7 linked regions of the Homo sapiens genome follow. The protein of the gene in region 1 interacts with the protein of each later gene in a pairwise test. Each region holds a gene or a part of one and is shown in the gene's direction. Other genes may lie near its edges. The genes, in order: PSMA1, KCTD13, HTT, KRT38, PSME3IP1, TRIM54 and BANF2.

What was found.
Region 2: the proteins of PSMA1 (region 1) and KCTD13 interact in binary tests that used the Homo sapiens proteins (3 or more experiments, as listed by UniProt).
Region 3: the proteins of PSMA1 (region 1) and HTT interact in binary tests that used the Homo sapiens proteins (3 or more experiments, as listed by UniProt).
Region 4: the proteins of PSMA1 (region 1) and KRT38 interact in binary tests that used the Homo sapiens proteins (3 or more experiments, as listed by UniProt).
Region 5: the proteins of PSMA1 (region 1) and PSME3IP1 interact in binary tests that used the Homo sapiens proteins (3 or more experiments, as listed by UniProt).
Region 6: the proteins of PSMA1 (region 1) and TRIM54 interact in binary tests that used the Homo sapiens proteins (3 or more experiments, as listed by UniProt).
Region 7: the proteins of PSMA1 (region 1) and BANF2 interact in binary tests that used the Homo sapiens proteins (3 or more experiments, as listed by UniProt).

Annotation. Positions count from the first base shown.
Region 1 is NC_000011.10:14,504,376-14,507,381, reverse strand, and holds the end of PSMA1 (proteasome subunit alpha type-1), read left to right. Parts: intron 1-2,133; coding exon 2,134-2,190; 3' UTR 2,191-2,506; downstream 2,507-3,006. UniProt on the Homo sapiens protein: Component of the 20S core proteasome complex involved in the proteolytic degradation of most intracellular proteins. This complex plays numerous essential roles within the cell by associating with different regulatory particles.
Region 2 is NC_000016.10:29,905,839-29,909,226, reverse strand, and holds the end of KCTD13 (BTB/POZ domain-containing adapter for CUL3-mediated RhoA degradation protein 1), read left to right. Parts: intron 1-2,118; coding exon 2,119-2,355; 3' UTR 2,356-2,888; downstream 2,889-3,388. Other genes in the region: ASPHD1 (aspartate beta-hydroxylase domain-containing protein 1), read right to left, coding at 3,330-3,388. UniProt on the Homo sapiens protein: Substrate-specific adapter of a BCR (BTB-CUL3-RBX1) E3 ubiquitin-protein ligase complex required for synaptic transmission.
Region 3 is NC_000004.12:3,077,681-3,081,180, forward strand, and holds part of HTT (huntingtin), read left to right. Parts: intron 1-3,500.
Region 4 is NC_000017.11:41,438,184-41,442,467, reverse strand, and holds the start of KRT38 (keratin, type I cuticular Ha8), read left to right. Parts: upstream 1-1,484; 5' UTR 1,485-1,546; coding exon 1,547-2,038; intron 2,039-2,224; coding exon 2,225-2,307; intron 2,308-3,108; coding exon 3,109-3,265; intron 3,266-3,609; coding exon 3,610-3,771; intron 3,772-3,851; coding exon 3,852-3,977; intron 3,978-4,154; coding exon 4,155-4,284.
Region 5 is NC_000016.10:57,176,040-57,179,539, reverse strand, and holds part of PSME3IP1 (PSME3-interacting protein), read left to right. Parts: intron 1-687; exon of another isoform or gene 688-1,038; intron 1,039-2,386; exon of another isoform or gene 2,387-3,500. UniProt on the Homo sapiens protein: Promotes the association of the proteasome activator complex subunit PSME3 with the 20S proteasome and regulates its activity.
Region 6 is NC_000002.12:27,295,929-27,299,428, forward strand, and holds part of TRIM54 (tripartite motif-containing protein 54), read left to right. Parts: intron 1-2,638; coding exon 2,639-2,811; intron 2,812-3,316; coding exon 3,317-3,488; intron 3,489-3,500. UniProt on the Homo sapiens protein: May bind and stabilize microtubules during myotubes formation.
Region 7 is NC_000020.11:17,698,745-17,702,765, forward strand, and holds the start of BANF2 (barrier-to-autointegration factor-like protein), read left to right. Parts: upstream 1-1,221; 5' UTR 1,222-1,311; intron 1,312-4,021. UniProt on the Homo sapiens protein: May play a role in BANF1 regulation and influence tissue-specific roles of BANF1.

The DNA of each region.
Region 1 (3,006 bases):
ATCCTGGCCAACATGGTGAAACCCCGTCTCTACTAAAAATACAAAAATTAGCTGGGCGTCATGGCATGCACCTGTAGTCCCAGCTACTCAGGAGGTGAGGCAGGAGAATCGCTTGAACCCGGGAGGCGGAGGTTGCAGTGAGCTGAGATCCTACCACTGCCCTCCAGCCTGGGCGACAGAGAGAGACTCTGTCTCAAAAAAAAAAAACAAACACAAAAAGGGAGAAGTGTTGATTATTTGGTTATCTATTGCTAGGTAATAAGCTACCCCAAAACTTAGGGGCTAGAACAACAAACACTACTTCTCACAATTTTGCGGCTGACTGGGGCTCACCTACATGGTTCTTTGCTGGTCTCACCTGGGATCTCTCAAACATTGCAGTCATTTGTGGGGTGCAACTGGAACACCCAAGATAACTTCAGTCACATGTCTTCTTTACTCACACCTTTTAGGTGTCTTAGAGGAGCATCTAGAAGGCAGAGACCTCTGCTAGGATGACTGAGCCTCTGTCCACGTAGTTTCAGGGCCGCTTCTTCAGCAGGGTCTCTCTAGCATATTGGCAACTCAGGGCTTGCAAAAGTCAGAAGTGAAAGCCGCCAGGCATTCTTAAGGCTGAGATGCAGGACTGGCACAACATCACTTGTACACATTCTGTTGGTTAAAGTGAGTCACTGGCCTGGCCCAGATTCTGTTTGAGCAGAGACTGGGAGAAATGCTCATTGGGGGCCAGCTTTGGACACTAAGATGGCTCTTCATAAAGAGAAAAGCATCAAGAAGTGAATCTCAGGTGAAATATGGGTCTTTTTGCTAGATGTTTAGAATATACATTTGCTATTTATAGATGCTTATTTGATAGCAGTGTAATTGAAAGTAAAAAAGAATCTAGTATGGAAATTTCTACAGCATGAGTTTTTTTAACTTGGAAAGGATATTGTTGGTACTATTTGGGGGATCAAGATTTGCAATATTTAAACTGTTTTTGGTAAAAACTAGCACTGTTGGGAAGAATGCTGTGGAATACCACAAACTAGTTTGGCAAAGGGGAAAAGAATGTCTAAAAAGTGCTGATTGTATTTTAAACATAGTAGTGATAATACAAGGAAAGCTTTTATTCCTGAGCAATGCAAAGTACGATAAAATGGTGGAATTGTTCAATGATATTTAGGTTTTCAGAAATGTGAAATTATATATACAGTTATCCTCGAACAGTGTGGGGTTTAGTGGTGCCAAACCCCAGCATGGTTGAAAATCCACATATAACTTTTGACTCCTAAAAATCTTCTGATAGCCTGCTGTTGACTGGAAGCCTTACTGATAACATAAACTGACAATTAACACATAAATAGACTAGTTTCTTTTTTGTTGTTTTTTGAGACAAGGTCTTGCCCTCTTGTCCAGGCTGGCGTGCAGTGGTGCCATCATAGCTCACTGCAAGGTTGAACTCCTGGGCTCAAGCGATTCTCCTACCTTCCCCCGCGCCACCAAGTAGCTGAAACTACAGGTGTGTGCCACCATGCCCAGCACATTTTTTTTCTTTTTAGTAGAGATGGGATCTCACTGTGTTGCCCAGGCCAGTTTCAAACTCCTGGGCTTAAGCAATCCTCATGCCTCAGCCTCCCAGAGTGTTGGGATTACAGGTGTGAACTGCTGCACCCGACCAAATAGACTATTTTCTACATATATTTTATGCATTCGGCATACCTAACTTTTTCTTACTCTTTTTTTTTATATTTCTAGGCTACACAGTTGGTCTGCTAGTTTATATTTATTGGAAAACAAACAAACAAAAAAAAGCTTCACCCTAAACAATGTTAGAGTAAAAGCAAACAAAAAAGAAAAAGAAAAAGAAAAAGAAATCTGCATATAAGTGGACCCTCACTGTTTAAACCTTTGTTGTTCGAGCCAACTGTATTTTTTTTAAATAAAAAATCTTTATTCCCTCAAATCATGAGCACTCAAGGAGAAAAAAAATACTGCTCAGAAATGTTAACAGGACAGTGAACTAAAACTGAGTATTCAGAATATCTCTTTACCCCTTTTTCTCAATTTTTAATAACGTAATATTTGTGATTAGATGTGTATATTGATCAAGTGTTCATTTTACATATTTTCTTTTTTTCTTTCCCTGTTAAGCCTGCTCAACCTGCTGATGAACCTGCAGAAAAGGCTGATGAACCAATGGAACATTAAGTGATAAGCCAGTCTATATATGTATTATCAAATATGTAAGAATACAGGCACCACATACTGATGACAATAATCTATACTTTGAACCAAAAGTTGCAGAGTGGTGGAATGCTATGTTTTAGGAATCAGTCCAGATGTGAGTTTTTTCCAAGCAACCTCACTGAAACCTATATAATGGAATACATTTTTCTTTGAAAGGGTCTGTATAATCATTTTCTAGAAAGTATGGGTATCTATACTAATGTTTTTATATGAAGAACATAGGTGTCTTTGTGGTTTTAAAGACAACTGTGAAATAAAATTGTTTCACCGCCTGGTATATTGGGTTTTTGTTTTTTTAAGTAGCTTCAACTCTATATAGTAGTCTGGGATTACAACTGGTCATTTGCCTAATTAAATTGCCTTATTTTTAGTGATGGAGAAAAATAATACCTCTTATCTGTCATAGCCTTATAACAGTTCTCCAGTGTATGAACTGGCTGCATGAGAATCCATGGAGATTTGGTTTAGAATACAAATTTCAGGGTTCAACTGTGGTGATTTTAATTAAAACTTAAGAAACCACCACTTCCTGATATAAGCATCAGTTATCATATGAATGGTTTTCTTTCCAACCAGCAAATGGCAGTAGTTGTAGCTCTGGTCTTTGAAGGGAACTTCTGTAAAAACAACACATGGGAAATTGTAATCCCAAACCTTTTATCCTCTCCAGCCCCACTCCAGCATGATCTTTAGGCTGCCTTCTGTTATTCCCATGAGTGGCATACTCAGGTATTGCAGAACCATTTTTATCTTAGACCATGTAAACTGAAATTAGAG
Region 2 (3,388 bases), on another chromosome or scaffold:
TAGCTAAAGACAGTGTTTTATCATGTGTGGTGGAGGGGAGGGGGTTTGCATCAGCAGCGAGGTGTTAGTTCCTTGAGGGCAGGGCCATGTCTTTTTCTTTCCTATCTCCCATTAGCTGGGCCCTTTTCACACAGTGGAAGCTAGGAAACATTTATTGAATGAATGAATGAATGAATCAGTGACCCAGCTTCCAAGAAACATCCTCTGATTGGGAAGATAGGAAGATAAACCAATAATTAGAGTGCATGGCTCACACCTGTAATCCCAATACTTTAGGAGGCTGAGGCAGGGGACCATTAAGGCCAGGAGTTTGAGGCCAGCCTGGGCAACACAGCAAGACCCCATCTCTACAAAAAATAAAAAAAAATTAACTGGACATAGTGGTACACCCAGGTACTCAGGAAGCTGAGGTGGGAGGATCACTTGAGCCCGGGAGGTTGAGGCTGCAGGGATACATGATCACACCACTGCACTCCAGCCTAGGCAACAGAGTGAGATCTTGTCTTAGAAACAAACAAACAACGATTAAAAAAAAAAAAAAAAGGCCGGGCATGGTGGCTCACACCTGTAATCCCAGCACTTTGGGAGGCTGAGGCGGGCAGATCACGAGGTCAGGAGTTCGAGACCAGCCTGTACAACATGGTGAAACCCTGTCTCTACTAAAAATCCAAAAATTAGCTGGGCATAATGGCACATGCCTGTAATCCCAGCTACTCCGGGAGGTTGAAGCAGGAAAATCGCTTGAACTTGGGAAGTGGAGGTTGCAGTGAGCTGAGATTGTGCCATTGCGCTCCAGCCTGGGTGACAGAGCAAGACTCTGTCTCAGGAAAAAATAAAAAATAAAAATAAAAAATTAAAAAAACAGTTTGCTAAGAGCTGTGTTAGATGCTTCCAAGGCCACACAAGGGAACACCCCAGTCACCTCTTCGACTTCATCCCTTTCCATTCCCTCTCATCTCTGCCTCAATTGCATTGGCCTCCCTTTTGATCTTCCAGTAAGACACTGGGTGCACTCCTGACCCACAGCTCTCACGCTGGCCCTGGCCCTCCCCAGGCTGCTCTTTCTGCTCTGTGTGCCTTGTCCCCTCCCCCACTCCTTTGGTCAAATATCACCTTCTCAGTGAGGCCTTCCCTGGAGTCCTTCTTAAAGTTGTAACACTCCTGGCTCTGGCTATCACATCCCCTTTTCCTGATGTATCTCTTTTCCTGATGTATCTCTTTCTCTCTCTCTCTCTTTTTTTTTTTTTAATAGATGAGGTCTTGCTACATTGCCCAGGCTGGCTTTGAACTTGAACTCCTGGGCTCTAACGATGTTCCTGCCTTAGCCTCCCAATGTGCTGGGATTACAGTCAGGAGACACCACACCCAGCTTATATCGTTTCCTAAACATCATCATTTGACTGCATTTATATTTTATTTTATTTATTTATTTATTTATTTTGAGATGGGGTCTCACTGTCACCCAGGTTGGAGTGCAGTGGTACAATCTTGGCTCACTGCAACCTCCACCTCCCATGCTCAGGTGATCCTCCCACCTCAGTCTCCCGAGTAGCTGGGAACACAGGTGTGGGCCACCACACCTAGCTAATTTTTTGTATTTTTGGTAGAGATGGGGTTACACCATGTTGCCCAGACTAGACTCAAACTCCTGGCCTCAAGCTGTCCTCCCACCTTGGCCTCCCAAAGTGCTGGGATTACAGGCCTGAGTCACTGCGCCAGGCTAGTTTATATTTTCTTAAGTGTATGACTGAGTCCTCCCACTAGAATGTAACCTCCTGAGGACAGAACTCTTGTTTTGTTCACTGCTATTTTTGCAGTGCCTAGAACAATACCTGGTGCAGTGCACTCACTCAGTATTTGTCAAATGAAAAAATATACCAAGAGGCTAGGCAGGGAAGGAGATGAAGGAGAGAAAACAAATAATTCTGCCTGCCTGACTTCAGAGCTGAGCCTTGAAGTATGACTTTGCTGAGTAAAGGAGTGGCAGAGAGGCCAGGCCAGGCCCAAGGACCTGACTGCAGGGCTAGGAGGTGTGTTGGTGCAGGGGCCCTAGGCAGGGGGATGGCCCTGCGTGACTGCACCAGAAGGAAGGAGCTGGGGCCGGCTGGCCTTTTGCAGGTGGAATTTCCAGAGGCCCGGATCTTCGAGGAGACCCTGAACATCCTCATCTACGAGACTCCCCGGGGCCCAGACCCAGCCCTCCTGGAGGCCACAGGGGGAGCAGCTGGAGCTGGTGGGGCTGGCCGCGGGGAGGATGAAGAGAACCGAGAGCACCGTGTCCGCAGGATCCATGTCCGGCGCCATATCACCCACGACGAGCGTCCTCATGGCCAACAAATTGTCTTCAAGGACTGACCTCTGACCCTCCCCCTGCCTTCCTCTTGCCTTGGGACCCAGTCCCTCTCTCTTTCCCTCCCCTTCCCAGACTTTTGCCCCGGCTCTGCTGGCCAAGTCGTGGGTCCTCCTCTGTCCCTTCATTGCATGGCACAGCTCACTTTGGCCCTTCTCCACCCATCCCAACCCCATTGCTAACAACATGGTACATTCCGGCCCCACCACTCAGAGCCTTCCGAAGCCAACACTTGTCCCCACCCTGGCCCTGCGTCCTTCCCTCTCCAGCTGGTTAAGAGGGATTTAGAATTCCCTTTCTCTTTTTTTAGTGCATCGTCCATGCCAAAGTGTGCGGCCCTTCCTGACATCACCACAGTCTGAGCAGCCTCCCGCGTCCTGCAGGGTAGTCCGCCCCCTCCTCCCCACCATCCTCCCTACCTCCTTAACTTTGTACTAGACTGGCCTGGGCCTGCCCAGCTCAGCGTTATCAGTCTGTTTCATATTATTTATTATTTTAATTTTCTATTAAATTATTGAAATAAAGTTAAGTTGAGAAACTGGTGCTGGCTCCTGGGGAGAGGGACGGGGAGATGCCTGTGTTAGGAGGTATCTGGCCGGGCGTGGTGGCTCACACGTGTAATCCCAACTACTCAGGAGGTTGAGGCAGAAGGATCACTTGAGCCCAGGAGTTCAAGACCAGCCTGGGCAACAAAGCAAGACCCTGACTCTACAAAAAAAAAAAAAAAAGAAAGAAAAAAAAGGAGGTACCTGTTTGGTTGTACTAGGAGAAGACATAAGGCCCTGCCCCAGCCTCTCCCTGCGAAGGAAGTAGTCGGGAGTTAGGAGAGGATTCAGAATTTATATTTCAGTGCTCACTAGCCAGTTCCCATCCTCCGCCCCCGCCCACCCCCGCAGTAGAGAGGAGGTCCTGGCTACCATCAAGCCGTCCCTGAGCGCAGTGTCTCTCCAGCCTGGGTGTGTGAAGGGAGCACCTTCCTTCAAGGGTCTGGGGCGAAGACAAAGTCGAGGGCCTGGCGCTCAGCCCCTGCCACGTTGG
Region 3 (3,500 bases), on another chromosome or scaffold:
GTGCTGGGATTACAGGTGTGAGCCACCATGCCTGGCTAGAATAATAACTTTTAAAGGTTCTTAGCATGCTCTGAAATCAACTGCATTAGGTTTATTTATAGTTTTATAGTTATTTTAAATAAAATGCATATTTGTCATATTTCTCTGTATTTTGCTGTTGAGAAAGGAGGTATTCACTAATTTTGAGTAACAAACACTGCTCACAAAGTTTGGATTTTGGCAGTTCTGTTCACGTGCTTCAGCCAAAAAATCCTCTTCTCAAAGTAAGATTGATGAAAGCAATTTAGAAAGTATCTGTTCTGTTTTTATGGCTCTTGCTCTTTGGTGTGGAACTGTGGTGTCACGCCATGCATGGGCCTCAGTTTATGAGTGTTTGTGCTCTGCTCAGCATACAGGATGCAGGAGTTCCTTATGGGGCTGGCTGCAGGCTCAGCAAATCTAGCATGCTTGGGAGGGTCCTCACAGTAATTAGGAGGCAATTAATACTTGCTTCTGGCAGTTTCTTATTCTCCTTCAGATTCCTATCTGGTGTTTCCCTGACTTTATTCATTCATCAGTAAATATTTACTAAACATGTACTATGTGCCTGGCACTGTTATAGGTGCAGGGCTCAGCAGTGAGCAGACAAAGCTCTGCCCTCGTGAAGCTTTCATTCTAATGAAGGACATAGACAGTAAGCAAGATAGATAAGTAAAATATACAGTACGTTAATACGTGGAGGAACTTCAAAGCAGGGAAGGGGATAGGGAAATGTCAGGGTTAATCGAGTGTTAACTTATTTTTATTTTTAAAAAAATTGTTAAGGGCTTTCCAGCAAAACCCAGAAAGCCTGCTAGACAAATTCCAAAAGAGCTGTAGCACTAAGTGTTGACATTTTTATTTTATTTTGTTTTGTTTTGTTTTTTTTGAGACAGTTCTTGCTCTATCAGCCAGGCTGGAGTGCACTAGTGTGATCTTGGCTCACTGCAACCTCTGCCTCTTGGGTTCAAGTGATTCTCATGCCTCAGCCTCCTGTTTAGCTGGGATTATAGACATGCACTGCCATGCCTGGGTAATTTTTTTTTTTTCCCCCGAGACGGAGTCTTGCTCTGTCGCCCAGGCTGGAGTGCAGTGGCGCGATCTCAGCTCACTGCAAGCTCCGCTTCCCGAGTTCACGCCATTCTCCTGCCTCAGTCTCCCAAGTAGCTGGGACTACAGGCGCCTGCCACCACGTCCAGCTAATTTTTTTGTATTTTTAATAGAGACGGGGTTTCACCGTGTTAGCCAGGATGATCTTGATCTCCTGACCTCGTCATCCGCCGACCTTGTGATCCGCCCACCTCGGCCTCCCAAAGTGCTGGGATTACAGGCATGAGCCACTGTGCCCGGCCACGCCTGGGTAATTTTTGTATTTTTAGTAGAGATGGGGTTTTGCCATGATGAGCAGGCTGGTCTCGAACTCCCGGCCTCATGTGATCTGCCTGCCTTGGCCTCCCAAAGTGCTAGGATTACAGGCATGAGCCACCATACCTGGCCAGTGTTGATATTTTAAATACGGTGTTCAGGGAAGGTCCACTGAGAAGACAGCTTTTTTTTTTTTTTTTTTTGGGGTTGGGGGGCAAGGTCTTGCTCTTTAACCCAGGCTGGAATGCAGTATCACTATCGTAGCTCACTTCAGCCTTGAACTCCTGGGCTCAAGTGATCCTCCCACCTCAACCTCACAATGTGTTGGGACTATAGGTGTGAGCCATCACACCTGGCCAGATGATGGCTTTTGAGTAAAGACCTCAAGCGAGTTAAGAGTCTAGTGTAAGGGTGTATGAAGTAGTGGTATTCCAGATGGGGGGAACAGGTCCAAAATCTTCCTGTTTCAGGAATAGCAAGGATGTCATTTTAGTTGGGTGAATTGAGTGAGGGGGACATTTGTAGTAAGAAGTAAGGTCCAAGAGGTCAAGGGAGTGCCATATCAGACCAATACTACTTGCCTTGTAGATGGAATAAAGATATTGGCATTTATGTGAGTGAGATGGGATGTCACTGGAGGATTAGAGCAGAGGAGTAGCATGATCTGAATTTCAATCTTAAGTGAACTCTGGCTGACAACAGAGTGAAGGGGAACACCGGCAAAAGCAGAAACCAGTTAGGAAGCCACTGCAGTGCTCAGATAAGCATGGTGGGTTCTGTCAGGGTACCGGCTGTCGGCTGTGGGCAGTGTGAGGAATGACTGACTGGATTTTGAATGCGGAACCAACTGCACTTGTTGAACTCTGCTAAGTATAACAATTTAGCAGTAGCTTGCGTTATCAGGTTTGTATTCAGCTGCAAGTAACAGAAAATCCTGCTGCAATAGCTTAAACTGGTAACAAGCAAGAGCTTATCAGAAGACAAAAATAAGTCTGGGGAAATTCAACAATAAGTTAAGGAACCCAGGCTCTTTCTTTTTTTTTTTTTTGAAACGGAGTTTCGCTCTTGTCACCCGGGCTGGAGTGCAATGATGTGATCTCAGCTCACTAAAACCTCTACCTCCTGGGTTCAAGTGATTCTTCTGCCTCAGCCTCCCAAGTAACTGGGATTACAGGCGTATACCACCATGCCCAGCTAATTTTTGTGTTTTTAGTAGAGATGGGGTTTCACCATGTTGGCCAGGCTGGTCTCGAACTTCTGACCTCAGGTGATCCACTCGCCTCAGCCTGCCAAAGTGCTGGGATTACAGGTTTGGGCCACTGCACCCGGTCAGAACCCAGGCTCTTTCTTATACTTACCTTGCAAACCCTTGTTCTCATTTTTTCCCTTTGTATTTTTATTGTTGAATTGTAATAGTTCTTTATATATTCTGGATACTGGATTCTTATCAGATAGATGATTTGTAAAAACTCTCCCTTCCTTTGGATTGTCTTTTTACTTTCTTGATAGTGTCTTTTGAAGTGTAAAAGTTTTTAATTTTGATGAAGTCGAGTTTATCTATTTTGTCTTTGGTTGCTGTGCTTCAAGTGTCATATCTAAGAAATCATTGTCTAATCCAAAGTCAAAAAGGTTTACTCCTATGTTTTCTTCTAAGAATTTTAGAGTTTTACATTTAAGTCTGATCCATTTTGAGTTAATTTTTATATATGGTTCAGGTAGAAGTCCAACTTTATTCTTTTCCATGTGGTTATTCAGTTGTCCCAGCACTGTTTGTTGAAGAGACTATTCTTTCCCCATGGAATTATCTTAGTACCCTTGTTGAAAATTAATCGTCCTTAATTGTATAAATTTATTTCTAGACTGTCAGTTCTACCTGTTGGTCTTTATGTCGATCCTGTGCCAGTACCATACAGTCTTGATTACTGAAGTTTGTGTCACAGTTTAAATTCATGAAATGTGAGTTCTCCAACTTTGTTCCTTTTCAAGATTGATTTGGCCATGCTGGGTCCCTTGCATTTCCGTACGAATTGTAGGATCAGCTTGTCAGTTTCAACAAAGAAGCCAAGTAGGATTCTGAGAGGGATTGTGTTGAATCTGTAGATCAACTTGGGGAGTAT
Region 4 (4,284 bases), on another chromosome or scaffold:
TCTTAGTCTCAGGGGTCTATGTATCTTCTGTCACAAATTTTGGGAGAAAAGTTTTGGGATCTCAGCAGCCATGTGTCTTGGATCCCTAGTACCAAGAACTATCTGAATGTGGAATGTGTAATATAACCATTTTAGGGACAGGACTTTCCCCTGGCATCTTCTGATTTAGCCCTTGGAGAAACTCTGTTTTATTGTATGAATACCTCCACATCTGTATTTTCTGAGATACAAAGGGAAAAATACACAATGTCAGATTTTTGTTTTACATCTTAATTTCAACTTCTTGCCCGGTTTCTAGGAATTTGAATCCTTCTTAGTTCTAGCAATGACACAGTAGTTATCCTTGGGGTGGAGGATTTGGAGGTGGTCAAGGTGAAGAAACAGTTTCTGGAGTTGAAAGAAGCTGATGTTGAGAATAGGCTTTATACTTTATAGTGAGGTTGATCTTAGAAAACTGTCCTCAATGGCTTGTTTATTTATTTTGTAAAATTAAGAGTACCCACCTCCCAGGTTGGAAGTAAAGATTAAAAGGTATCATTGCTCAATCCCCTAGCTCATAGGGTGAAGGCTCATGACTGACTTTAGAATAAAGGAAGCAAGGTATGAAGAGAGCCCACAGAGGCTCTGATCACTCAATGTCCTTTGACTTTCATGACCAAGTTCTTATTTGAGGTTCAGTAAGATTATTGCTCATTTCTCTTTGTTTATTTCTGGCTTCTTGAGCTTGCCCTTCTTGGTCGAGATAAGCCATGGTTTTTGGAGTCATCCTCATTTTCATGAGCTTCTCAGATACCTTGTTTGAAACATCACGTCTACCCAAGTTACAGTTGTTCCCCAATGGCAGGAACTATTTTGTGCTTAACCAACTATATATCAAGCATCAGCAAGGTGCGTAGCATATGGGACGTAGCCAGGGGATGTGTTTTGAGTGACTGGATTCATCTAAGTCTTGTTGCTCCTCAAAGTGAGTCTGAAAGGCAACCAACTAAAGAAAGAAGAAATGTAGGACTTCTTGATAACCCAAGGCCATAACATCCACCAATTCCAAGACTCAGTTTCTTCCCTGGATAGGGAAGGCTGGTTGAGTCTTAACCCAAGTGAGAACCATTGTCATCACCGGGGTTAGTCCTCCTGCTACACCACTGACCAACAGGAAAGTTTGTGTCTCCAGAGTGGACACATCCATAAAGAGGCCAAACCCAGTCAAGGTCTAAGCATCTGATGGCTATAACTTTGCTTCTTTGAAAGATAATAAAAAGCTTCTGACCTCCCATCAACAGCCAACCTGATTTCAAAGAGCCAAGAGGCCTCAGATTCGTCAACATTCCTTTAACGAGCTGAGAAACTTTTCATGGTAAACTCAGCAGCTGAGTAACAGGATGATGGCACCACAACAGGTAGATAATCAAGGCAGGAGGTCAAAGCATTGGAGCCAACACCCGCCCAGGATGGGGTATAAAAGGGCTGGGAGGAGAGGAGGCTTCAGTCTCAGTGGTTCAGCTTTCCCAGCTGATCTGAAGCTCCTGTGCAGCCTCAGCCCAACACCATGACCTCTTCCTACAGCAGCTCCTCATGCCCTCTGGGTTGCACCATGGCTCCTGGAGCAAGAAATGTCTCTGTCTCTCCCATCGACATTGGGTGCCAGCCTGGGGCAGAGGCCAACATTGCCCCCATGTGCCTTTTGGCCAACGTGGCACATGCCAACCGAGTCCGTGTGGGGTCCACTCCCCTGGGCCGCCCCAGCCTCTGTCTGCCGCCTACCTGCCACACTGCTTGTCCCTTGCCAGGGACCTGCCACATTCCTGGCAACATTGGAATCTGTGGGGCCTATGGTGAAAACACCCTGAATGGCCATGAGAAGGAGACCATGCAGTTCCTGAATGACCGCCTGGCCAACTACCTGGAGAAGGTGCGCCAGCTGGAGCAGGAGAATGCGGAGCTGGAGGCCACACTCCTCGAGAGGAGCAAGTGCCACGAGTCCACCGTGTGCCCCGACTACCAGTCTTACTTCCACACCATCGAGGAGCTCCAACAGAAGGTGAGGTGTGGGATCGCTTGGGTGTGCTGGGTCTGAGATGGCAGAGGCAAGACAGGAGGAATCCATGTAAAGCTCAGAGAACTTTGGGTTCTTGGTTTCTCTTGGACATGATCATAGACACCACACGTGGAGAAGGAGCCTAGGGCATGATGCTTTGTGTGTGAACTGTCTTCCTGTTCTCCTCAGATCCTGTGCAGCAAGGCCGAGAATGCCAGGCTGATTGTACAAATTGACAATGCCAAGCTGGCTGCCGATGACTTTAGGATCAAGTAAGTCAGGCGGAGGAGGGCCAGGGTGACTCCTTCCCCACCCTCCATCCCAATGCCCAAATACTTGTTGAGTGAGGGAATCATTGTCATTTCTTCCTTGCTAGATTCTCTACAGTAAAATTTTCATTACAATCGAAGCTGATGGAAGATGGAAGGGAAAACTCCTCATTAATCCAAGCATATATGTTTGTCTTCCTTCATTTATTTCCCTAAAATGGAGGATAAGGCAGCCTGAGTTCATTAACCAGGAGCAAAATGAGGTGATTTGAAGGATGAACTGAGCAAGACAGCCATTGGGTTTCATATATAAGTCAGAGGAGTCACTTACAGATGAGTCTTTGTCCAGATTTAATTAGGGAGCCCTAAGGTACCAGGTATAAGGTACCTAGGCAAAAATGAGAGAGGGGAAGACAGCTGAAAGCAAGGGATAAGGAGCCGCAGATCACGATCAGGCACCTGGTTATTGCTTATCTTTGGTAACTGACAGCCCCTGCAATGGCATGAGCGTTGGACTGGGTCCCAAGATGCATGATCTTACGCAAGTCAGTTGATCTTCCTGAACTGCAGTTGCCACAGAATACAATGGCAAAAATGTATATTGTGCAATGTAGTGTTGTGATTTCTCCATTAGACCATGAGCTCTTTGAGAAGAGGGGCTGGGTCTAATTCACCTTTGAGGACAGAGGGCTAAACAGAGTGAATAAATGAGGATCCAAGGTGGTGTGGGAGGTAGGAAGCCAGGGCAGCCGAGAGGGGCTCTTGGGGGCATTCTTTTTGACCCTGTACCTCCTGTGATGAAAGGCTGGAGAGTGAGCGCTCCCTGCGCCAGCTGGTGGAGGCAGACAAGTGTGGGACACAGAAGCTCCTGGATGATGCGACCCTGGCCAAGGCCGACCTGGAGGCCCAGCAGGAGTCCCTGAAGGAGGAGCAGCTCTCCCTCAAGAGCAACCACGAGCAGGTGTGGCCCTGGGCGCTCAAACTCCTGGGGAGGGCACTGGGCAGACAGGGGAGCTCCCCAGCCCCGGGCTCTCAGAGCATTGCCTGGCCTCAGCTGGCATCAGGATGCAGGGCTGAGGTGGGTCTGAGGGTCCAGAGGGCCTCTGTGGAAAGTGCAGACTTGCCTTGGGCATGAGGAAGGTGTGCAGGTGGGCTCTCCCGAATGCCCTCTGGGCAAGACTTTCCCATTTGCTTGTGTGTGGGACTCCCCTCCTACTGCTTGCCAGGGGCGGGGTCCTGGTGCTGTCTGCTCCATCAAAGGCCCTTTCCTCATGCAGGCTGTCTGTCCCTTCCTCCCTTCTGCAGGAAGTAAAGATTCTGAGGAGTCAGCTGGGGGAGAAGCTCCGGATTGAGCTGGACATTGAGCCCACCATTGACCTGAACAGGGTGCTGGGGGAGATGCGGGCTCAGTATGAGGCCATGTTGGAGACCAACCGCCAGGATGTGGAACAGTGGTTCCAAGCCCAGGTGAGTGGGGGGGGTATAGAACCAGGGGGTACCTGGCCTCCATCTGGGCAGGGAGGTGACCGTGTCTCTCTGTGCTCCAGTCTGAAGGCATCAGCCTGCAGGACATGTCCTGCTCCGAGGAGCTGCAGTGCTGCCAGTCGGAGATCCTGGAGCTGAGATGCACGGTGAATGCCCTGGAGGTGGAGCGCCAAGCCCAGCACACCTTGGTACGTGTCCTTCACTCTCACTGCACTGCAAATGCCCCGTGCCATGGCCTAGTAGCATTTTATTTTGGAGGTCTCACTACCCAAGTTTCTCCCACCTGTTATCACCATCAAAATTTGAGGCATGTAGCAGTTTCCCTTGGGGCCTTGTATATTTTATCCCCTTATTTCCCACTACAGAAGGACTGTCTGCAGAACTCCCTGTGTGAAGCCGAGGACCGCTTCGGCACGGAGCTGGCCCAGATGCAGAGCCTCATCAGCAACGTGGAGGAGCAGCTGTCTGAGATCCGGGCCGACCTGGAGCGGCAAA
Region 5 (3,500 bases), on another chromosome or scaffold:
TATTTGGGGAGCAACAATGTAAGTTTTGTATTTTAAAACATGTGTAGTGTGCTATGTAAGAACTGAGCCCATTTTGTCCCACCACCCTGGAAATTAAATGGGACGGTCTCCAATGTAAACCCAGTAGTTCAGTGTTACCAGTTACTTTGGCTTGAAATATAAGAACTTTGTTTTCTTGACGGTCAGGCAGATTTGAAAACCACGTTCTTTATTTGTGCCAATTTGGACTCTAAGTTTGGTGGACAAAGTGAATTTTGAAATGGTTTTAGTTTTCCATGAATTCCCTATTTGAAGAAATTGAATAAATCCTTTAAAAAATAATGTAATGTTTAGTTTGATAATTAAACTTGAGTCACTTTGGAAAACGTGAGTAAAGGAAAGCTGACAGCATTTGTTTACTCTTTCTAAAGTGGAACACAGTAAGGACAAAGTAAGCATTCCTAATGTAAGTCCTCTGCATTCCTACAGGGCTCTTCACAGTTAGAGCCCGTATCCCTGATATCCCTGGGCTGTTTGTCTTTTGATTTGTTTTTAATTACCCTAGCAAACAAAAGGGAAAAAGAAGAGACTTGTGAAAATTTACCTAGACAATAGGAATTAGAAGTCAACACAATCTAATTTTCTAGCTTCTTTGTCTACTTCCAGCAGGTCAGTAAGTTACAGGTACTTATCACCTCTTTCTTGCAGAATAAACAGCCATTGGACTCTTCAAACAAAAACGCTGTCTCCATCAAGTACTGCTTTCGCAGGATAAGTGACCATTTTTAATCAGTTGAAATTAACGGAAAGTAGCAGTTATTTTTGAAAGATGACATCAATTATATAATATAGTAAAGAGATTTAATTTTTAGTCCTTTGTTTCTTACTGCACAAATTGTATGGCGTTTGAATAGAATTCCCATGATACTGACACTTCAGCAAATACTTGCTTGATGGCTACCAATCTCTATAACTTACATTGCACAGTACCTAGGAATATTCATGTGAGTTCATTCCTCCCTGCTCAGATTCTTCAGCTCCTCGTGGTTGGTTTATTCAGTAAGTATTTGAATACCTAATATATGCCAGACACTGTGCTAATAATAATAAGCACTGTGGAGACAAAGAGCTGTTGGAACAGTCACAGATGATAAAACACAAAGAATAAGGGCTGTAGTAGAGTTATGAATGATCATAGCAGGAACACAAAGGAAGGAAATACATATTAACTACTCTAGGAGGTCTTGGAAAGCTTCATAAAGGAGATGGTCTTTAGTCTGATTCTGGGCGGTTGGAGCAGCAGTTTGCATCGGGTGAAAAGAAAGCAAGGGCATTCCTGGCAGAGGGAACAGCCTGAGCAAAGCCATGCAGAGAATGAAGACCTACAGAAGAAAATGCTAATTTGAAAAAAGATGCATAAAGCAGTCTATGTTTTAGTCTAGTCTTTTTAAACTTACAGAAATTTATTACTATGTGTGTCCATCTAACTTGGCTTATTTTCTTTATTTGGGGATCAAGGGAATGCCAGAATTATGATATTAGTTTTATTACTAATTAATTAATTTATTTATTGAGACAGGGTCTCACTCTGTTGCCCAGGCTAGAGCGCAGTGGTGCGATCATGGGTCACTGCAGCCTTAGCCTCCTGGAGTAAATGATCCTCCCACCTCAGCCTGTGAGTAGCTGGGACTACAGGCACACATCACCATGCCTGGCTAGTTTTTTAAATTTTTTGTAGAGATGGGGGGTCTCACTTTGTTGCCCAGGCTGGTCCTCCTGCCTTGGCCTCCCAAAGTGTTGGGATTATAGGCATGAGCCACCATGCCCAGCCTGAATTAAGATATTAGTTTTAAAGAGCAGACTTTTGTAAGTGTGCATTAGTTTTGACAGTGTGACTGTGTTTTCAGGACACCAACCCACTGAGAGCTGATGAGAAATACATTTCTTGTATTTTTCTTTCCCCTGCAACGCTTGCCTTTAAATTTTTTTTTTAAATATGCATTTACTTTATTTCTTATTTTCATTAACCAACTGATTTCTGGTTTTGTCCCTGTGTATAAAAGATTGTAGGCCGGGCACAGTGGCTCATGCCTATAACCCCAGCACTTTGGCAGGCTGAGGTGGGCAGATTGTATTGCTTGAGTCCAGGAGTTTGAGACCAGCCTGGGCAACATGGTGAAACCCTGTTTCACGAAAAAAAAAAAAAAAAAAATTAGCCAGGTGTAGTGGTGCATGCCTGTAGTCCCAGCTATTCGGGAGGCTGAGGCATGAGAACTGCTTGAGCCCAGGAGGCTCTCTGAATTCTTATTTAGGTAGAAATGTAAAATTCTAGGGTTTGTTTTTATTGTTGTTGTTGTTGTTTTTGGCATATTGGAAGATTTTTAAATTTTCTCTTTTAAAAATATAGGCCGGGTGCAGTGGCTCACACCTGTAATCCCAACACTTTGGGAGGCCAAGGCCGGTGGATCACCTGAGGTCAGGAGTTCGAGACCAGCCTGGCCAACATAATGAAAGCCCATCTTTACTAAAAATACAAAAATTAGCCGGGCATGGTAGCACACACCTGTAATCCCAGCTACTCAGGAGGCTGAGGCAGGAGAATCGCTTGAATCTGGGAAGCGGAGGTTGCAGTGAGCCAAGATCGTGCCACTGCACTCCGGCCTGGGCGGCAGAGCGAGACTCTGTCTTAAAAAAAAAAAATTATATATATATAACAAGAATGAAGAGAGACATTTACTGGGACACCAATGGCATTGCCGTATCCTAGTATTTATTTCCCAGGTTTAAATCATATCTAATCTGATAAATTCATTTCCTTCAGACATGATTATTTTTCTCCATCTTATAAAATTAAAGTAACTAGGAATGTTTGGCTCAGAAAAGCAACAAATTAGGAGGAACATGGGAATTGTCTTCAAACAACTGAAGTATGGTCATGTTAGAAAAGATTTGATTCTTTTTGTATAGTCCCAGTGGATTGAACCTATGTATTGAATTTATAGTAAAACAGATTTCAGTTCAGTTTAAGGAAGAACTATCCTAACAGTCAAATCTGCTTAGAGAGGGAGTTGGCTGCCTAGGAAGGGAATGCAGTGGTCCCTCTTGAAGTTTTAATATATGAGTTGGATGACCTTCTCCTGGGTGTGTATGGTAAATTCAGATGTCGAGTGGATTATCATATTAGGTGGGCTATAAGGACTATCCCACCCTGAATTATTTACTAGGAAAAATGGGTGATGGAAAGAAACCAGATGATTAATACAGGATGAGAAAGGAGACACGGTTAATAGGGGATAAGAAAGGGGGAAATTGAGGGTTCGGAATGTCTCTCCCAACCATTAGAGCCCTAGAAAGTTCACGTTTTCTCTGCCAGAGACATTTAAGAAATTGTTGGCTCTGGTTTCATAAGAGGTTGTTCTGTAGAACTTGAGGAATTTTTGGCATTTTCACAGAGACTGAACAGTTCTGCTTCAGTAATGAGCCTCTGGCTGGAGTCATTGAGTGCTGCTAAATCAGAAGTG
Region 6 (3,500 bases), on another chromosome or scaffold:
ACTCAACAATATTCATACATTTCTAGCTACTGAGAAGGCAGATGTACAAACATGCCTTGAATTATCTCAAACTAATCTGCCCCAGGTTTATGATGGGCTTAAAGGTTAACATGATTCTCAAGAAATCCCAAGAAAGATGTGATATTTATGGCACACACCAGTTACTCTCCCCAAGATAAGCTGCTCACTTCACAGTGGGTCCACGTTTCCTGCCTTGCCTACAGCCCTTGCTACCAAAGGATCAAACAAGACCCTTGACTTGGCTGCACTCTGTGCATGATGGGGTGTTGCTGCACACACGCAAGGGGCCTTCCAAACTGTCTTCTGGTTTGTGTATGGTGTAAGGGTTTGGAGAAGTTCATGCATCCCAGTTGTAGGAAGTGCATCTCACTATGCTAGCTCATAGGTGACCACTGTCTCCATTACTCTCTAGGAATGCATAATCTTCCAGCCAGTTGGGATTAGGTTCTGTTCTAAGTGGCAGAAACCCCAGAATAACAGTGGCTTAAAGAGGGTAAAAATTTGCTTTATTCTCAAGTGAAAGTATGGGTGGACAGTGCAGGACTGCCTCATCAGAGACCTCCTTTCATCTCGTTACCATTCTCAACATGTGGCTGCCACTTCATGGCTCAAGACGGCTGCTTCAACTTGAGCCATCCCGTCTTCTTTCCAGCCAGCAGGCAGGAGAAAAGGGGAGGAGCAGGGCATGCCCCTCCCATGAAAGACGGTTTGTGCAATTTCCTACAAATTACACAAAACATTTGCATCTACATCCCAGAGCACAGCCAATTGGCCACACCCAGCTGGAAGGGAGGCTTAGATTCATGGGTTTTTTGGTTTGTTTTTTTGAGATGGAGTTTCCCTCTGTTGCCCAGGCTGGAGTGCAGTGGTACTATCTCAGCTCACTGCAGCCTCTGTCTCCTGGTTTCAAGCAATTCTCCTGCCTCAGCCTCCCAAGTGGCTGGGACTACAGGTGTGCACCACCGTGCCCAGCTAATTTTTTTATTTTTAGTAGAGATGAGTTCTTGCTATGTTGCCCAGGCTGGTCTCAAACTCCTGAGCTCAAGTGATCTGCCCACCTCGGCCTCCCAAAGTGCTGGGATTACAGGCATGAGCCACCACACCCAGCCCTTTATACCATGTGTCTTGTTAAAACTCAGGGCACTTATTATTAAAGAAGAAAAGGTGGTGAACGTCAGGGTACAATAAGCAGTGTCTGCCAGTCTTTCATCTCTGCATCTCCCCACACATAGACTCTTTTCTCTGTAGACCAGCCTTCTCTGTTCAGTTTCTGACCCCTTACACTTTCCAGGGTGGCCGTGATGTCAGCTCTTAGCCCAATTCCACAGGTCTATTCAATTCCTAAGCAGAACATGGCGTAGCCAGCTAAGCCCCTGAGTCTCAAGTCCAAATTCTTAGGAGAGAATATTTGATTGGTTCTGCTTGGGTCAGGTGATCACCTCCTTAGCTCTGAATCAATCATCTGTGGCAGGGATCTCCCTTCTAGGATAGGATGGAGCAACTACTCTAGGCAAGAGATGTAAGCCGGAGGAAGTGATGGGTGTCTGTTAAGTCCTCCTTCTGAGCCTACCCCTATCACAACACCCATCCTGCTGGATGCAGTTGTCAGGTGCTTGTCCTTAGGACAGGATGCATTTTCTTTGTATCTTTAACTCAGAGTCCAGCAACTACCTGGCACACTATAAATGAATAATTTTATCCTCAGCTTTACAGAGGTTGAATACCTGCCTAAATTTATATACTTAAGAGGTTGGGCATGGTGGCTTACGCCTATAATCCCAGCAATTTGGGAGGCCGAGGTGGGAGGGTCACTTGAGGTCAGGAGTTTAAGACCAGCCTGGGCAACATAGTGATACTTCATCTCTACTAAAAATAAAAAAAATTATCTGGGCATGGTGGCACACACCTCTAGTCCCAGCTACTCAGAAGACTGAGATGGGAGGATTGCTTGAGCCCAGGAGGTCGAGGCTGCGGTGAGCTGTGATCCCACTACTGCACTCCAGCCTGGGCATCAGAGAAAGAACCTGTCTCAAAAAAAAAAAAAAAAAAAAAGGCCGGGGGGAGGGCATCAGAGATAGCACAAGAACCCAGGACTCCTGACTTCCAGTTCCTGGAGCAATTTTCTAGAATTACCTGGCTAGTTACAGTTTGTGAACCCCATTGTTGAGCACTTGTATCTGCTTGTACCCCTGCCCAGGACTGCAGAGAATCTCCTCCAGTTGTGGCCCAAGAGGGCCCCAGACTGGAAGACATTGGTCGCACCACTCAGAGTTCATTTCCTGCCTCAGCCTTATTGCCAAGACCAATGTCTCCCCATGGCTCCAAGCTGGACCCCTTTGGAGAGATCCCATCCTGACTATGCCTTGACCAAAGCTGAGTTCTGGATGCAGGGGCACTCTAGGAGGTGGGCTGAATAATGAGGCAAAGGTGGGAAGCAGGGTCTCCATGGCCGTCCACCGTGCGCTGCTCTCAGAGGTGGATCCAGCCACAGAGAAGAGCTGACATCTTCCCCTCCATCAAGTTCCTACTCCCTAGCCCCCAAGCCCTTTCCCCCTGCCTCCTCCGAGTCCCTTCATGCCTCCCCGTGCCTGTTCTCTCAAGCCATCTGTCCCTGCAGGCCTCGAATCCTCTATGGCAGTCCCGGGGCTCCACCACTGTGTCTTCAGGAGGCCGTTTCCGCTGCCCATCGTGCAGGCATGAGGTTGTCCTGGACAGACACGGTGTCTACGGCCTGCAGCGAAACCTGCTAGTGGAGAACATTATCGACATTTACAAGCAGGAGTCATCCAGGTGAGCCACCAGAGTCTCTTGCCTCTCTCATGACAGGGCTTGGGACACAGCCAAGGAACCCATCAGAGCCAAAAGGGAGAGATTGAAACGGTCAACCTGCCTGTTCTGTCTAGAGACCATAGGACTGGATCCGGAGAGGGACTTGCCTCAGGCCTCCCAGAGAGGGCAGTCTCTGATTCCCTAGCCAGTACTTCACTCCTACCCTCTCCTCCTGGGAGAGGCTGGCAGTCCACCAGCAAGATCCTCGCTAACCCTCCAAGACTTCCTGTCCTGTGGGACTTCCCTGCCCCCTTGTAATACAGACTGTTCTCGGATCCAGGCCTCCTCTATCTCTTAGCTCCTTCTGTTCCCCAAATTCAGAGCTCTGTGGAAGTACTCACCAGTTCAGCCACAGCACTAGCTGCAGGGGCGGAGAAGGTGGTGGCAGTTGGTGGAGGCTGAAGAGAAGGTATTCCTAGGACCCTTCATGCTTAAGGTCCACCTCCCCCTGCCCACTCCTCTCTAGGCCGCTGCACTCCAAGGCTGAGCAGCACCTCATGTGCGAGGAGCATGAAGAAGAGAAGATCAATATTTACTGCCTGAGCTGTGAGGTGCCCACCTGCTCTCTCTGCAAGGTCTTCGGTGCCCACAAGGACTGTGAGGTGGCCCCACTGCCCACCATTTACAAACGCCAGAAGGTATCAAACAGG
Region 7 (4,021 bases), on another chromosome or scaffold:
GCACTGACAACGTCAGTTGTGCTTCCCCAAAACGTGGCTCAGTTCTGGCAATGAATAGATCCTCAGTAAAGCGTGCTGGTTGAACCCAGAGAGCTCAGCCAGCTTTGGCCCCAAAGCTACAGCTCCTGTTTATTCTCCAGCAACCCCTGAATACTGCCATCAGCTGGCAATACTATTTCAGGATCAAACCTAAGATACCAGCACCCTTACATGTTCTTAAAGTGTGTAGTCTCAGAGCAAGCAGCCTCAACGTCATGTGGGAACGTGTAAGAAATGTGAATTATTGGGTTCTCCCCCAGACCTAATGAGTCAGAAACTTTGAGAGTGGGGCCCAGGAATCTGTATTTTAACGAGTCTTCCAGGTCATTCTAATGCAACCTACAGTTTAAGACCCACTGTTTTGGACTCTAAAATTTAGGGCCACCCAACAGTTTCCAAAGCGAAGCCGTTTGCTCTTGGTTAGAACTCCTCCATCCCCAATCCCAAGCACCAGCAGCAAAAGGGAATGGAATCTCTGGAAACATTTTATACTTTGCCCCCTTTTTTGAGTTTTTCTTTTCTTTTTAGGCTTAGTAAATATACATTGTACCAAGTTATCAATTACCAACAATGGAAAGTAGCCCAGGCATATATGCTATAGAGGATAACCTAAAAGACACCTGTGTTGAATTTAACTTGAAGGTGGGAGGATTTATATTTCTGCTTGTTTTCCTGAGCTAATATTTAAGTTACTTCTCTTTCCTTGAGTCCCTACCAGGTGGGCAGTAGGGGGAAAGTCACGGGTATACTGGTAGAAGAAAAAGCTGCCCTGGAATTTCAAGTCCATCACAGAAGATGTGCAAGGAGCTGGGGGTACCCACGGAAGTCACTTTGTGCAGGAAAACTGCATGAAGGATGGACTTGGTTTAACTGAATTGACGCAGGCCAGGTGAGAATAGGAACCGTGGCAGCAAGTGGCAGCAGGTGGATTCATAAGCAGTCTTCCAGGCTGATGTTTTCTGTACAGCAGACATCCCTCACTCTTTCCCAGCAACCCCAGCTGAGAACAGCACCCAGACAGGCTGATTTCTTCTGGAGAGGCCTGAGGCTCTTGCTCCTGCCCTGCCCTGTGCCCTGATGCCAGCAGCCACTGCAGCCCTTTTTGTGCTCACCCCCGACCTGTGGTGTGACATCACAATGTAGTCCATTCAGGATCTTGAGACTGATTTGCCCCATGGGCCTAAGACATAAGCTGAACCTCTGGCCTGCAGTTCCAGATCCAAGGTGACTGAGACAAACTGCCAGCTGCCACTGGCTTATCAGGAGCACCTGGTGAGTATTCAGAACTTTCCCAAGCAGCATGGAAGGAGATACAGCCAACAGCTGGCTGTCTTAGCACTTTAAGGTCTCATTCTCACACAGGTTTAGATGAGCCAAACCGGTGGACAGGAGTTCACCAGGTAAGCCCCAAACTCTTCCTAGGAAAGCTGACTCACCTGATGCACACACCCCTTCCCAGCCTCTTCCTGCTGTGTCACCATCTGCGGGAGGTGGTACTCTAGTCTCCCCTAAGACTCGGCTTGCCACCTGCACCAGCTCCCTGGGCAAAGGTCACCTGTGTTCTTAATAGAGCAGAGAGGCCAGGCTTTCAGATGGCAAATTCACTAGAGCATCACTTCTAGCCCTAATTGAGGTCAGGGACAGCCATTGGCCAAATGACACACCACATAGCAGGATGAGCAGAGGTAGCTGACACAGCCACCTCCCGTCCAAAATGTGAACGACGGTCCTTCCTTTCTGTAAGAGGCCTTCCTGCTTTGGCTGTTTTTAAATCCACCTCCTGGTGACCTGCTGGTATATCAAATCACTTCCTTTCCTTTTGGGACAGTAAGAGAGCTTTAGGATCGTGACGGGAAATAAGGAGATGGATTAGAACACCAGGAAAGTGGGCAAAATCTAAGGTAGCGGGGACAGGGACAGAGGCCAAAGCCATCTCTCAAAGAGGATGCTGGCTCTTTCCATATGGGCCACCTGCACTCGGCTGAGGGTGGTTTGAGACTCAAGGCCTTCTATAACAAACAGTAGGGACCCGTTCTGGGCCCCAGGAGGCACAGCTGCCTTCCCTACCATGGCCCATTCGTGTTTTCCCACAGTCTGTCTACGGTCCATTCACCATCTGTGAGTGCCAACACGTCCACACAGCTGCAGCTGCGTCCCTTCTCCCACAAAGGAGTGGCTTCTATAGGGACCCCATGATTTTAAGAAGGCTCCTGGCTCTCCTTGACTGTGTAAGGTAGAAAGGGAGGTGGTGGGGGGTGGATCAGAGAAATATTTTACCCTTAGGCTTTGCCATCCCTCCTTAGTTTTATATGTGATGGGCTGAAGCCAACCTCTGCTTCACACACAAATCCAAGACGCCAATGGTTCACCAAGCATGCTAAGAACATTTTAGCCTATGTTAGGCCCCACTGGAAAAGGAAAAAAGACAGTAGAGGGGCCGGCGCTAGAGCAACCTGTGGTCCCCGTCCTGCAGCAGGTTTAATTTGGAGAGGAGAAAGGGAGCAAACGCTGAACCTCCCGTGCCAGACCCACCAGCTATGTTATTGCTCTTAATTCCGACCTCTGTGAAGCAGGTGTTCTCAGGTTCATTCTACAGACATAGAAACTGAAGACTGTTCTGTGCTGGTGCCACGTCTAAAGAGGGTCATTAACCTGGAGCATGCCTTCACTCTCTATCGACTATCCCCAACATTAGAGCTCTCTGAAAAGAGAATGGGCTGCTTTGCAAGGCAGCAAGAGTGTGCAGGCCACGGCTCTTCCATCAGCATGGAAGGGAACGGGATTCTTGTGATCAGCTGGGAGCTGGACCAAAAGACCTTTAAAGGCTGTTTCCAAATCCAAGATTGTAGGTTTCTGGGTGTTAGTACTTTGCCCACCCTCTGCGATTGAACTCAGGTGGGTCACGCCTTAAGGACGGCTGCAAACTTTCTGTTAGGCAAGGAGAACTGGGAAGAACCATAGAGATCAGCTACGGGCCCCAGGTAGGAAAGAGGAACCCAGGCTGGTTGAGGGAGTTTTCCAAGGCTCCAGAGCCAATTTGCAGAGTTAACCTGTGTTGACTGAACAAATGGAGGAGCCAGTTCTGAGTGCTGATCAAACGTTCCCATGCCCATCTCTCTCATTCACCTGGTTCTTTCCTATCAAGATTATGATTCAGCCACCATTTACAAAATGCCTGCTGCATGCCAAGTGTGTTTCCAGAGATTATTCCACCTACTCCTCCCCAGCTCCATGAGGTGGGTGTCATCAGCCCCGTTTCTCAGATGAGCATGGTTAGGTAACCACCCCAGAGGATCAGGTACTTGTGGAGATGTCATAAATACTAAATGACGAAGCAGGTCTTTCTAACCCCAAGGAAAACTTATGTCTCCATCTGCCGCCTCCCAGCTTGTGTGAGGAAGCAGGGTCTCCTTTCTTAGCCTTTCCCTAAGGCAAACTGCCATCGATGTGCCAAGTTCCACAGTGCCTATTTCCAGCTCCTCTTGGACGTTGCCCTGATGGATGCTGAACTCCCTGTGGGCCCGCCTGTTTCACTGGCCCGGCCCCTCACTCTGATGGGGCAAGATGGAGCGATGTCTATACACGGACAGATGTTATGCACCAAGGAAGAAAATCTGCTAATCGAAAGCAGCTTCAGCTAATTGTGGCACTCTCCCTTCTGCGTGGTGCCCTGAAATAGTAGCCATGCTCTGTTCTTTTTTCACATCAGGGAGCCCCAACTGGCAACTTAAATGAGGTTGCAAAGAAGTCAGTTACACAGACCTCTGCTGCCAGTTTCCATGGATGAGGCCTTGCTGATGCTCCTTGGATAGGACCCGTGTGCAACTGTTTGTGGACTTGGCTTCTTGCTGTGGATAATTTGGACCCACTGTTGGGCTGGAAAAGCCTCATTTAACCCTGGGGAAAACTGGAACCTTCAGAAATTTAATGGAATACTAAGCCCAAGAACACATGGTCTGACCTTGAACCCTGGTTCTGATCT